Linked DNA regions of Homo sapiens: region 2 is reported to be linked to region 1. Evidence: microRNA targets listed by miRTarBase, many of them from high-throughput screens and not tested one by one. Region 1 holds a microRNA gene; the other region holds the end of a gene's coding sequence.
Evidence for each region. Region 1 holds the annotated microRNA hsa-miR-7856-5p (UUUUAAGGACACUGAGGGAUC, at 4,369-4,389, opposite strand). A microRNA usually pairs through its seed, bases 2 to 8, with sites in the 3' UTR of a target mRNA and lowers its output. Matches are read on the target gene's strand: a 7mer-m8 pairs with bases 2 to 8, a 7mer-A1 pairs with bases 2 to 7 and ends in A, and an 8mer does both.

Region 1 (7,124 bases):
CATTTATATTCACCAGGGTGTTAAGAGCAGTGATGGAACATAGAAATTTCTTGTTAAATACTCATTATACACTTGGATTAATAGAATTGGGAGCAGGAATTGGTATACACACTTCCTACAAACACACACACACAAACACAGAGACTGGTTCTTCATTCATTCACTTCCAAACTGGTCTGAATTTGAATTTTCATATTTCTCTGGTTACTTATTTTAGCAGGAAGTCTAGCTTAGTTATGTTCATCTAAGGAATCAGATATGTTTCCTTCTAAGGAAGCCTATTTGTAAGAATGCTGGGTTGGAGCCACAAGAATGAGAGTAGAGGCAGGGACTGATCCAGGAACAAGGAGCTAGTGGAAAGGACTGTCCTCCAACCTAATTCCTATGAACTCGGTTCTAAGTTATTATAAAGATTTCTTCTGTACATATTCCAAGCACAATTATGCATGAGAGATGCCAGTGTGAGCTGAAGCTATGGGAGAAAGGGCCTTTAGGACAAACATTGACGCCCTTGGCGCCGTCCCCTCAGTGTGGGCAATGGTAACAGGGCAGTGATGGCACTCTCACGTGGGCAGAAACTACAGATAGCCCCATATTCCACTGTAGCAGGAGAGAAAGGAGAGGGCAGACATACCTCTGGGACTCTGAACTCTTCCTTTCAGGAAGGAATCTGAGAGCATACCTGGCATTTCCAAAATGCACTTAGGCTGAACCCTACACCAGACTATGAGAGTGCTGAGAGCTAAGGCCAGGTCTTATTCATCTTTGCATCTCAAGCACTAGCAGATTGCCTGATACTGAAGTATTCGTTGAATGCTAACCTAATGGATGTAACTGAAATTTAATATTGTATGTATTTATCTATGCAACAATATTTGTCAAAAGGGACTTGAACTTTACAGCTCACTGAATCCTGATCAAAACAAAAATTTTCAATTATTTGCACATTCAATTTGGTTGTATATAAAAAAGGTACAGGAGGAGATTATGTCTTCAAAGTGTTTTCCATCTCTGCCCTTTCCCCAGCCACATTACCATTTATCTAGTGAAGTAGCTCTAGCCTAGCAATGTATCTGTTTTGCTTGAAAAGGAAGATAGTTAAAGAAGAAAAATGTAATTGCTCCCTTCACCCTGTCATCAGGACAAAAACAATAACTACAGGTTGCAAGATGTTTAAAAAGATGACTCTTTGGTAAATGAATTAAAAAGTTTCTAAATAAAGGCCATGCATACCTTTTGTCTTCCTTCTTCTAAAGCAGCTTCCAGTTGTCTGGCCAATGCTGTATACTCTGCAGATTTCTCTTTAAACTTAAGATTGCTGTGCTTAAGACATTCTTCTTGGTTTGCCAGCTTCTTCTCAAGCTCTTTATTTTCTGCGTCCATCTGTTCTAATTTTCTTTTTACAGAAAACATATATTTTAAAATGTTAATGTGCAGAGAAATATGCAGCAGCAATGTTAAGTAATTTAATACTTACTGTTGAAGGTTTTCACACTTCAGCTGAATAAGACAGTTTTCCTCTTCCAGAGAAAGCTTTGTCAGAAGATTGTGATTTCCATCAACCTAAAAGAAAAAAAAAAGTTTTCTTAGTCATTTTCTTCACAATCAACTTCCAAAGAAATCCATATAATTTATTGTTAGAACAACCACAAGCAACGAGAAGGTATAAATGTTACTACTCTTACACAGAAAGACACCAAGAAAATGTTATATTGTTAAAATGGAAGTTTTAAATTCCTGGTTAAATTTAAAGAAGTTATGTTGCCTGTATTGGAAAATAACCAACTAAAAAAAATTCAGGATGATGGCTATTAAAACACTTTGAACAACACCTTATTGAAGAAAGATATTTATTTTGTTAAGTTGAAATAGGAAAATTTTAAGCAGTATTAATCTCCTATTTTTGGATACCTAGGGTTTCTCTTATGGTTTTCTGTTTCACCTAAAAATACTGATTAATAATTGAGTATCTGTGAAGTCGAAACTGTAAATAAAATACATATTTTTTTGAGAAGCAAAGTGAACAAATCAACCAAAGACACACTCACCCATGCCAAGACAGAATATTCTTCCCACTGCTTCAAAATCTGCTCTAAATAATGTAAGAAGCTTTGATTCAAGGAAAAAATTTTTTTCTCATAATTTCAATTAGTAATTTAGGCTAATCTATGTCGTTTGACATTTTACTAGAAAAATCTCTTCTCAGGAATTTAAACTAAAATTTTGTCTGCATATTTTTATCTAACTTTTAAGTTCAGGGGTACAAATGCAGGTTTGTTACACAGGTCAGCTTGTGTCATGGGGGTTTGTTGTACAGATTATTTCATCAATCAAGTATTAAGCCTAGTACCTGTTAGTTATTTTTTCTGATCCTCTCCCTCTTCCCACTCTCCACCCTCTGAAAGGCCCCACTGTGTGTTGTTCTTCTCCATGTGTCCACGTGTTCTCATCATTTAGCTCCTACTTTTTAAGTGAGAAAATGCAGTATTTTTTTTTGCAAAATTAAAATCCAGATCATATTTGGAAGATAGACAGGGAATGCTTCCTAAAACTGCCTTGAAAGTAAAAGAAAAAAGACTTGTCACCATCTTTGGACTGCTCCTTTAAAAAAAATTTCATTAATTAAAAAAATATTGAGTGCTTACTATGTGCTAGGCATTGAGCTAGGAGAAGGCTATGTGGCTACTAACAGGATACACATGATCCATATTCTGATGGTATAAAAAGTAAAACAGGAAAAAGAAACAGACTGAAAAATATCCCAAAAAACTTGACGTACAATTCTAATTAAAATAAATTCAATTTTTGTAATGTAAGTTTCAATAATTTACCTTATCCTTACATCAAGGAACATATATGTAAGTATAACTTTGCTCCTTCTCTCATTCTATTACCATGTCTTCAAATGTCTATAGATTTGCATGAATAAACTAAAATAAGAATTTTAATTACCAATTTTTCACCATAAAATACTAAAAGAATAGCTTGCAAAACTGTATTATAGTATCTGCATGAAAATGATGTTTTACGAACTAAGTAGATGGGAATTTAAAAATCAAGCCCTGACATGAGTGCCCTCAACTGGTGAAATCATTCCAAAGCATTCTTTTAACGCATCTAGCAAAACTCAGAAGGACGGCTGGACACCTGGCCCTGAAGCTCCCTAATGGTGTGTTCCTGGTCTGCACACTTCCCCTTGCAGCACTGCAGACTCTCCTGACACTCGTGAAGCCTCCGTTCCGCCGCCGTCAAGGAATCGCAGACACGCTCTAACTCCTTCAGATGAGACTCCATCTGGCCTCTCATCTGAGTTGTGGCAGTAGGGAAATAAGTGCAAGATCACACATTCAGCATTAATATTTTTATTATCTTAAATACTAGATATGCTTATAACGTAAGTATTTTAGGTATAATGGCTTTAAATAAGAACACAACTGAATAAATATTAAACTCTGTTAAATAAGAATGTATAACTAAAAAGTGGGGTAGACTTTAGTTTTCAAAAAGTTTGTTGAGCACATAAATAGGGTAAATTAGCTGACAGGGTGGATGTTTAACTAATTTTTAAGAGCAAATTTTTAAAATCCTGACATTATATTCAAGCATAGATTATCACTAATAACCATTACTAATAAAGCCGTAATTGTCTACTGCCCAGCTATAGGTTCTAAAGGAATTGTCACTTTTAGTCATTCAATCTTATAACTCAGATACTTACTTAAATTAGAGCAGCTTGCTTCACTCATCTTAGCCAAAACTGATAGGGTTTACTGTATATTATTTAAAAATTGCTAGTATCATCAGTTCTCACTTGCCTTTAATTTGGCCATTAATGTTACTATCAACAAATCTCTCTAATTTCATCTACATTAATCTGTTTTGGCTACTGCAGTTCCTCGCTGCAGCACTTTCGTGGAGATGTGAAAAGCAGCAACCTTAAGAAATGTTTGCACTGCTAATTACAAAAAATAGCCAGACTCTTTCCCTGAGACAGGAACACCTAATAGTTTCTGTGTAGTATCTGGCATTCTTGATCAGGAAAGATAATGCAGTATTTTTTTTTTTTTGCAAAATTAAAATCCAGATTATATTTGGAAGACAGACAGGGAATGCTTCCTAAAACTGTCTTGAAAGTAAAAGAAAAAAGACTTGTCGCCATCCTTGGACTGCTCCTTTAAAAAAAATTTCATTAATTAAAAAAATATTGAGTGCTTACTACGTGCTAGGCATTGAGCTAGGAGAAGGCTATGTGGCTACTAACAGGATACACATGATCCATATTCTGATGGTATATAAAGTAAAACAGGAAAAAAAAAAAACAGACTGAAAAATGTCTGTTTTAAGGACACTGAGGGATCCAGAACAAAGGATCCCTCAGTGTCCTTAAAACATCTTAGAGGCCATGAGAAAACCAGGAGACTTAAAACAGTGAAGTAAGAAAAAGAAAAATTTCATTAAAAAAATAGTTGTCTTGTTAAATACTAGTTAGAAAACATTGTGACCTCACAGTATCTGAAAAAGACAGGCTCCAACCCTTTCCGTCATTTGAACAGGATTGTAAAATATGCTTTTATTTACAGTGCTGCCTAGCAGAAAAGGAGACATTTGCACTGGTATGTTTCATGAGAAAATGAGACCAAAAGACATGAAATGGTTTATTCGCTGGCCTGCTAAAAATAGGTGAAAAGTAATTCCATGAAAGCAGTAAGTTGTGCATTCAGTGAGCTATCTTTATGTCTGTATAACTGGAGGACGCTTGCTCTGGCTGACCTCTTCTTCACATTATTGCCTTGCTCTGACTTCTCAATCCTAAGATAGGGAGCAACCCAGAGAGAGTAACCTTATTAGATTCAGATGGAAGCGACCACTAACATCGCATGACCTCTGCTGCCAGGAGTCAGCATCCTACAACTTTCACTGCTTCTTTACCAAAACAACACAAAAAACCAAACAGAGATGCGGTTTCATTTAAAAATTTTAAAATATTCACAAAAACATCATAACTCGCCAACACTGGCCTTCCCTTCATTCTGTTGCAATAGAACAAATAAAAGGAAATGATCGTTTTTTAAAAGATATTATTTTTCTTCAAAAATGCATTTAGCAGATATTGGCTTTGCTTTTGTAGACGTAAAACATTTATAACCAGAAAAAAAGGGTGAGATTAAAAATGAGAGATACTTAGGTTTGTATACTTATGATTGATAACCATTTTTTGAGCTATTTAAAGTCTGCTCTTGCATCAGAAAAATTAAACATTTATGCTATTTTCCAAATATTAACAAAAAAGTGAAAAAACATTCACATAAACAAACAACATTTCCAGCCTGGAAGAAACATTATTTCCTTGGAAAACAAACTCTTACAGAGGCTAAGACTAGCCCTTTCCTAAGTATGAACTAGAGAAAATGACCAAAATGAATGAATTTGTGTACTATTCATAAAGTAAAAAATATATAAAATATTATTTATTTGAAATTCCAAACGTACCTTCTCTACATTTTTATTTTTGGTTTTTGTTATTTGGTTATTTTTATGTAGCAAATTTTCACATCTGCTTTTTACTATTTCAGCTGCTTCTTGCAACTTTTGTACCTGAAAATAAAGTATTAGAGAAACATATTATTTTTAGAATCATAACATGAGATAAAAATCTAAAATTTAAAATTTCATTTTAAACAAGTCATTATTTTCCTATCAATATCCTTGACTGGTTCATCTAATGTTATTACTTCTTTAAATATGGAATCACTCAGTGCTCTACTCTAACCCACAATCTTTGTCTGATTTACCTGTCTTCTCTCATCAATACTTCTAAACTCTCCACTTGAGCTTTGAAGACTACAAAGATTTTCATTTGCAGATCAATGTCACTTCAAAGAATCAGTCTCTGGTCCAAACTAGCTTCCATTTAAATTATTTTTCCCACCAAATCAAAATCTGCTAAAAAAAAAAAAAAAAATTCTAGGCCCTGCACCCAGAATATGGTCACTCAACCACAGTATTCCTGCTGAGGGATTAAACCCAAATAACCAGCTGGAAGACCCTGATGAATAACAAGTCCCACAGTCCACCACAACCTCCATTCCTACCTCAGACCTGGATGACTGAAATATTCTAACTGGATGTCTCAACTTAATTTTCCCATCTAATCCATCGAGATGCAGCCCCTTCCTACTTGCCCACACTTTGGCCCCCTTAAGCTTTCATCCTTAGTTCATTCTTTTTTTTTTTTTTTTTTTTTGAGATGGAGTCTTGCTCTGTTGCCCAGGCTGGGAGCACATTGGTGCAGTCTCGGCTCACTGCAACCTCCACCTCCTGGATTCAAGCAATTCTCCTGCCTCAGCCTCCTGAATAGCTGAGACTACAGGTGCATGTCACCACACCTGGCTAATTTTTGTATTTTTAGTAGAGACAGGGTTTCACCATGGTGGCCAGGCTAGTCTCGAACTCCTGACTTCAAATGATCCGCCCACCTCAGCCTCCCAGTGGATTACAGGTGTACGCCACTACACCCAGCCAGTTCATTATTCTTTAATTCAAACTCTCTCTGACCAGTGTGTTAACCATCATGCAAGGACCTGCATAAGTCCCATCTTATGAAGTTTTTTCTTGAATACTACATTTCCAAAAAAATAAAGGTTTTCTATAAATTACCATTGAACACATGGTCTATTTCATATATATTGTCATATGTTCTTTTCTTGGTCTTTCATGTGAATAATCTGAATTATACTTTATTTCTTGAGAAAGGAGGCATAATGAACTTTAATGACCCTAGAAGGGAGTCATTAATCTAAATCAATACCATTAAATACACATGATGACAAACAAATATAACCAAGATTAACAAGAATACATTAAGGGTCACATTATACCGATGTAATTCATTTTAAATCTACTTTTAGGAATATCCAGTATATCCATATGCAGTGTTTGAATCAGGAATCAGCAGAATCATCTATTTATAAAGATGTGTGGGACCTTAAGAAATATTTGAGACACACCATATTATAACCCACAATGATAGCCCCACCTCTCTTCAGTTCTATTTATTTAGATTACAAAGAAATAGTGTTTTAAATTGTCTACCAATTTTAGTAAACACTAAAATAAATGCAGTA
Region 2 (7,106 bases), not on the chromosome of region 1:
ACGCCTGTCATCCCAGCACTTTGGGAGGCCAAAGTGGGTGGCTTATCTGAACTCAGGAAGTTTGAGACCAGCTTGGGCAACAGAGAAACTGTCTCTACCAAAAATACAAAAACTTAGCTGGGTGTGGTGGCCTGTGCCTGTAGTTGCAGCTACTCAGGAGGCTGAGGCAGGAGAATTGCTTGAACCCAGGAGGCAGAGGTTGCAGTGAGTTGTCTACCAGTCCCACGGCATTAGCACTCGTCCCAATCCAGTACAACCTCAACTTGATTGCATCTGCAAAGGCCCCGTCTCCAAATCACATCACATTCACACTTAACAGGGGTTAAGACCACAAGGTGTCTTCTCTGGGGAACATAACCTGTAACATTTTTCTAAGGTCACATATCTAATAGGTGGGAGAGCCTGGCCTCCAGCTCGACTCATCCTCACTCTAGAATCTGGGCTCTCTTAGTCATTGGTACACACTTCTGTTTCATAGGGAAGGAGGCTGAGGCTAGGAGGACTTGCCTGACTTAGAGCCTATACCCCTAAGCCTTGGGCTCGTGGCCCCCGTCCTCTACCTGAGCAACTTGGAGCCCAGAGGGATGACAGGATTCGTCCCAGCTCCCAGAGAGGAGCCTGGCTGGGCTGGCTTCTTTGTCCTCTCTCCTTTCCCCGCATGGGGCCCTGACTTTATTGTTTCCGCCCCTGCCGCCATCCTCCCTGTCCCAAGTTCCTCGTCTATCCCTACGGGATCCCCGCCCCCTTTCATGTTCTGACGTCCATTTTCTTTTGTCTCCATCCAGGATTCCCCTCTAAAGACCCTCATGTCCCACTATGAGGAGGCCATGGGACTGTCGGGACGGAAGCTCTCCTTCTTCTTTGATGGGACAAAGCTTTCAGGCAGGGAGCTGCCAGCTGACCTGGGCATGGAATCTGGGGACCTCATTGAGGTCTGGGGCTGACACCCCACTCCCTGTTTGACGGCCCAGCCTGGACTTGGGGAGAATGACTTTCCCTTTTTTGCCCCATAAGGGCTAGCATAAGCTGAGGTAGAACTTATCTTTAAGCTGCAGCAAAATCAAGGAGTGACTTTTGTCCCCTCTCCTGTTGACCCTGGTTTAGAGCCGTTAACCACTTGGTGAGTTATGTGGGTGTTGTTGCCCTGGGTGGCCTGTGGCTCCGTCCACAAGTCATGCTGAGTTTTGCAGCCTCTGTGACTTGGAGATGTCCCTTCACCCCTCCCCTTTCACCACCATCCTCTTTTCCTCATGGAAATGTCTGCTTTATGAAACTATGCACATATTGAAAGTGAGTTGAAACAAATGAGGGTTGGGTAGGAGCTTCCAGGCCTGGGATTTACACCACGCCTAGCCCAGCAGAGGCCTTAGTCCCATTTGGGGCTTGGGAGTGACATTTGCTTGAGGCTTATACACTGGTGTGGTTGCCTGGCTTGCAGGAAATGACCAAGCTCACACATGCTGGCTGAAGCGTAAGCAGACAACTGAGGTACTCTTTTGAAGGATGAAGGTGGTGGATTCTCAGCCCTGGGGGTCTTCCTCACCTGAGGACCCTTCAGAGCCACCCTTTCTAGTTTGCATTTCCTGGTGCACACATTTAAGGCATAACAGCACATTCATCCCTTTGGTTTGGGATCTCAGGAATACAGTCCCATGCAAAGATTCTCTGGTTTTATGGCTTTTTTCCCTTTCTTTACACCATCCTCTCCCATAAGCACCCATGTCTTTGAATATGAATGTATTTGTAAAATACCACGTTTCATGTGTGAATATGTGCTTTTACTGTACATAGTGCTATTGTGCAATAGGTCTTATGCTGTTTTCACTCAATGTGTGCTAAGATCTAGCCCCATTGACTCTTCTAGAAATGCAGTATTGCTTTGACCTGCCATGTGGCACTCCACAATGTCAATTGCAGTTTACACACATTGCCTAAAGTGGGGGACACCTGGGTGCCCCTGACCCCTTGGCACCGGATACAGGCCACGATAAACATCCTTTCGTGTGTTCCCTTCTGTGCTTGTGTGGCATGTGTACCCAGGATGGGCCTATAGGTCACAGAGGTCAGTTTCTCTTTGGTTTTCCAGATTTTCTTTAGAACGGTGACTGACCCTCCTACTTGAGGCCGCCCTTTTCTCCTTATCCTTGCCAGCACTTGTATTGCCAGACTACCTAATTTTTGCCAGTCTCATGGGTAGATAGTGGTGCAGTGCTTTAACATACATTCATCTGATCAGCATTAATTTGGGGAATTTTTTCACTTAGCCTTTCTGGTTTCCCTTCCTGTGCATTGCCCATTTTCTCATGGAGTTTCTTATCTTTTTTGGTTTATTCTCAGGAGTTGCTTGTACATTCTTGGGCAATTGCAGATAATTCCAAGAATGCATATTTGGGCTGGGTATGGAGGTTCACTGGTAATCCCAGCACTTTGGGAGGCCCAGGCAGAAGGATCGCTGCAGCCCAGGAGTTCGAGACTAGCCTGGGCAACATAGCGAGACCTCGTCTCTACAAAAAAAAATTAAAAAGGGGGCTTTGGGAGGCCAAGGCGGGCAGATCATGAGGGCAGGAGATTGAGACCCTCCTGGCCAACATGGTGAAACCCCGTCTCTACTAAAATACAAAAAATTAGCTGGGCATGGTGGCGCACACCTGTAGTCCCAGCTACTCTGGAGGCTGAGGCAGGGGAATCGCTTAAACCCAGGAGGCGGAGATTGCAGTGAGCCAAGGTTCCACCACTGCACTCCAGCCTGGCGACAGAGCAAGGCTCCACTCAAAAAAAAGATTTAAAGGGGAAAAAATTGAAATTTTCTTTGTATCTAGGGGTATCCGTCACTGAACAGAAATTCTTAATTTTGGCTAGGCGTGATGGCTCAGGTCTGTAATCCCAGCACTTTCGGTGGCCGGGGTGGGTGGATCACTTGAGGCCAGGAGTTCAAGACCACCCTGACCAACTTGGTGAAATCCCATCTCTACTAAAAATACAAAAATTAGCTGGGTGCAGTGGCGCATGCTTGTAATCCCAGCTACTCAGGAGGCAGAGGCAGGAGAATCACTTGAACCCGGGAGGTGGAGGCTGCAGTGAACAGAGACAGTGCCACTGCACATCAGCCTGAGTGACAGAGAGACTTTGTCTCAAAAAAAAAAGAAAATTTTAATTTTAATGTAGACAGTATGAATTATCTTGTTCTGCAGTTGGTTGCTTTTTGATTGCTTATTTAATAGAGTTGTTAAGATATTTTACATCTTCTCCTGTTAGCTGTTCAGCTTTTCCTTTCATATTGAGAACACTACACAGTGCTGAAGTCCAGCTGGTACACACCGGGGTGACACCTTGGCTGCATCTGTTCTCAACAGTCAGACACTTCTTCTAATTGGTTGATGCTGGGCTGTACTGGTTGCTAAATATTGCACATCATTTTAAAACTATTTGAGATGCACTTTTGTACTCAGGAGGCCAAGGCAGGAGGATTGCTTGAGCCCAGGAGTTTGAGACCAGCCTGGGCAACACAGCGAGACCTTGTCTCTTAAAAAAAAAAAAAAAAAAAAATGAGAGAAATCGGCTGGGCATGGTTTCTCATGCCTGTAATCCCAGAACTTTGGGAGGCTGAGGCAGGTGGATCACCGGAGGTTAGGAATTCAAGACTGAAACCTTGTCTCTACTGAAAATACAAAAAAAAAAAAAAAAAAAAATGAGCTAGGTGTGGTGGCAGGCGCCTGTAATCCCAGTTACTTCGGGAGGCTGAGGCAGGAGAATCGCTTGAACCCAGGAGGCAGAGGTTGCAGTGAGCCAAGATCGCGCCATTGCACTCCAGCCTGGGCGACAAGAGTGGAAACTCTGTCTCAAAAAAAAAAAAAAAAATTCAGTGAAATACACCTTTATATATGAGATCCAAGTTTCACTTTTTGTGATATAATGAGCCAGTTTTCTCAGTAATGTCTACTAAAAAAAAAGCCATTAACCTTTCTCTAATATTTGCATGATTCTAATAAAAGTATGTCAACTTCTTAAAATGTTTTATTGAAATGTGGCATTCCTTTGAATTTTATGACATTAAAATAATCCACGACATGGTACAGCTCTTCACTTTTTCAGCTTTTTAAATGTCCATTAATAAGTTTGAATACGTTAAAATTATATGTTTAACCTCAACAAAATAAATGGCAATATGTTCAACTTGTGTATACTGGAGGATTTTTGTCTTTGTGGCCCTCATGTGACCCCCACTAAGATCCTTGTGACAGAGACAGGAATAAGATCCTTATTCCTTCACATCCATTCTTCCTCCTTCTGTGGTACTAGAACCCATGGTTTTTAGCGAGGCACAGAGACACTCAGAATAAAAACAGTGGCCAGGCATGGGGGCACACACCTGGAATCTACCTAGCACCCTGGGAGGCTGACGTGGGAGGATCGCTTGAACCCAGGAGGTTGAGGTTGCAGTGAGCTATGGTTGTGCCAACCCACTCCAGCCTGGGCAACAATCAAGACCCTGTCTCAAAAAAAAAAAAAAATTAAGACAGTACTTCCTGGCTTCCACTGTAGCTAGATGTAGCCAAGTGCCAATACAGGCTCCTGGGGTGTAAGTGGAATGGGGTATCACTTCCCAGAAGTGTGCATAGCGGGCAGCTTGTCCCCTCTCTTTCACTTGCCTCCTGCCTGCTTACTGGAAGTGGAGCAGCCCTACTGACTTAAGGTGACCTCTGGAACAGAAACCACATGGGCCAGGATGGTGAGGGAAGGCGCCTGGATCACAGCATCCATGTAGCACCTCATTGGCCTGGCAGTGCTGACCTCGGCTTTCACATGAAGGAGGGACTGCTGCCCCTCTTTAAATCACTTATTTTAGGGTTTCTACCACTTATAACCAAACCCAGTTCAAATTCCAGGATGTTGCTATTGCAAGCAATGTAGTGTTCCCTTTGGGGTACCTGTGTGGGATTTTTCTCGGGGGCTTCCATCTGATAGTGGAATCACTGGTCACTAATTCTTGAATACTGTTAGATTGCTAACCAAAGTGCCTGTACATTTTTACATGTCCCCTAGCAAGTGCTGGAAGGTTCCAGTTTCCTCATACCTTCCCCTGACTTAATCTGGGAAGGGTATGGGAAAGACTGCATTTCTTTATCTTTTATGATGAGATTGTTCATCCTTTCACATGTCTAAAAGAATATCTAGGGTGATCTTTCTTTTTCTTTTTCTTTTTCTTTTCTTCTTTTTTTTTTTTTATAGGGTCTTGTTCTATCACCCAGGCTGGAGTGCAGTGGTGTGATCTCGGCTCACTGCAACCTCTGCCTCCGGGGCTCAAGTGATCCTCCCACCTCAGCCTCCTGATTAGCTGGGATCACAGGTGCATGACAGCATGCCCACCTAATTTTTTTGTATCTTTTGTAGAGGTAGGATCTCACTATGTTGCCCAGGCTGATCTTGAACTGCTGAGCTCAAGCAGTCTGCCTGCCTCTGCCTCCCAAAGTGCTGGGATTATAGGTGTGAGCCATCGTTCCCAGCCTTGTTTTGTTTTCTTGAGATAGGGTCTTCTCTGTCACCCAGGCTGGAGTGTAGTGGTGCTATCATAGCTCACTGCAGCCTCGATCTTGTGGACTCAAGCAATCCTCCCGAGTCTCCTGAGTAGCTGGGACTACAGGTGAATGACAACACACCTGCTAATTGTTAAACTTTTGTGTAGAGATGGACTCTCCCTAGGTTTCCCAAGCTGGTCTGGAACTCCTGGCCTCAAGCAATTTTCCTGCCTTGGCCTCCCAAAGTGCTGGGATTACAGGTGTGAACCACTGCAGCTGGCTCTGGATAATCTTCCTCAAACTCTCCTGATTAGAGACCCTTGAAACTTTAATGCTCCTTTACTCAGTGCCACATACCAACCTTGGCTCTTTTCATAACCTTATTCATCCTCAGAGCAATCCTGTGAGGTAGGTGTTCTTATTCCCATTTTACAGAAGAAAAACAGAAGCTTAGGGCTGGGCACAGTGGCTCACGCCTGTAATCCCAGCACTTTGGGAGGCCTAAACGGATGGATCATTTGAGGTCAGAAGTTCAAGACCACCCTGGCCAACATGGTGAGACCCTATCTCTACAAAAAGAAAGAAAAAAAAACCAGGTATGGTGATGCACGCCTGTAGTCCCAGCTACTTGGGAGGCTGAGGCAGGATAATTGCTTGGACCTGGGAGGCAGAGGTTGCAGTGAGCTGAGATCGCACCACTGCACTCCAGCCTGGGCGAGAGAGTGAGACGCTGTCTCAAAAAAAAAAGACAGAAGCTTAGAAAGATGAATGAACGTGCTCTAGACCACAGGGCCTCCCATTGCACAGCCCGGTGTAGATGCAGGTGGGTCTGATGTATGGCTCAGAATTCTCAAGGAGACCAGAGACTCTCGTCAGTGTGCACACAGGTTGTCTGGGGACCTTGTTAGTGTGCAGATGCTGGATCAGCAGCTCAGGTGGGGCGTGAGATGCTGCATTTCCAGCAAGGTCCCAAGTGATGGCAATGTAGCTGATCATACTTGAAGTTGCAACATACCATTTTGCCTTTTTTTCTCTATGCCTTTACTGTCTCCCACCTCCCTACCCCTGTCACCCCCTCCAACTCAGGGTCAGTTCTTCCATAAGGCTCCTCGTAGGACTGGTCACATTGTCTTTTGTGTGTCCCACCTCTGCTTGGAGTCTGGCTTGGTACACCCATCCACGCATCCAGGTTTTGCTTCCCTATGGGACTGTAAGTTCCTTGAAAATAAACTCTTCTTAAAAATCTCTTGGCTGGGCCGCAGTGGCTCATGCCTGTAATCCCAGCACTTCAGGGGGCTGAGGTGGGAGGATCACTTGAGGCCAGGAGTTCCAGACCAGCCTGGGCAATCTAGTGAGACCCCATCTCTACAAACATAAAAAAAATTAGCCAAGTGTGTGGTGCATGCCTGTAGTCCCAGCTACTCAGGAAGGAGGCTGAGGTGGGAGGATTGCTTGAGCCCAGGAGTTCGAGACTGTAGTGAGCTGTGATTGTGCCACTGCACACCAGCCTGGGCAACAGAGCAAGACCCCATCTCAAAAAAGTCTCTTGCTTGGTGTCTGACACCTTGACACAGTAGTATCCTAACAAAT

Region 2: miRTarBase lists NFATC2IP as a target of hsa-miR-7856-5p. Seed matches in the 3' UTR shown: 7mer-A1 at 3,523-3,529 and 7mer-A1 at 4,004-4,010.

Annotation. Positions count from the first base shown.
Region 1 is chr1:86,353,297-86,360,420 of GRCh38, forward strand. It overlaps MIR7856 (microRNA 7856), which reads right to left and starts at 4,391; the gene lies at 4,336-4,391. It overlaps ODF2L (outer dense fiber of sperm tails 2 like), which reads right to left. Exons shown (of 17, transcript NM_001366781.1): 12 at 5,491-5,595; 13 at 3,148-3,306; 14 at 1,478-1,563; 15 at 1,234-1,396.
Region 2 is chr16:28,962,920-28,970,025 of GRCh38, forward strand. It overlaps NFATC2IP (nuclear factor of activated T cells 2 interacting protein), which reads left to right. Exons shown (of 8, transcript NM_032815.4): 8 at 786-4,173. The coding sequence ends at 944. NFATC2IP-AS1 (NFATC2IP antisense RNA 1) reads right to left here and starts at 3,525. Exons shown (of 2, transcript NR_186408.1): 1 at 3,497-3,525.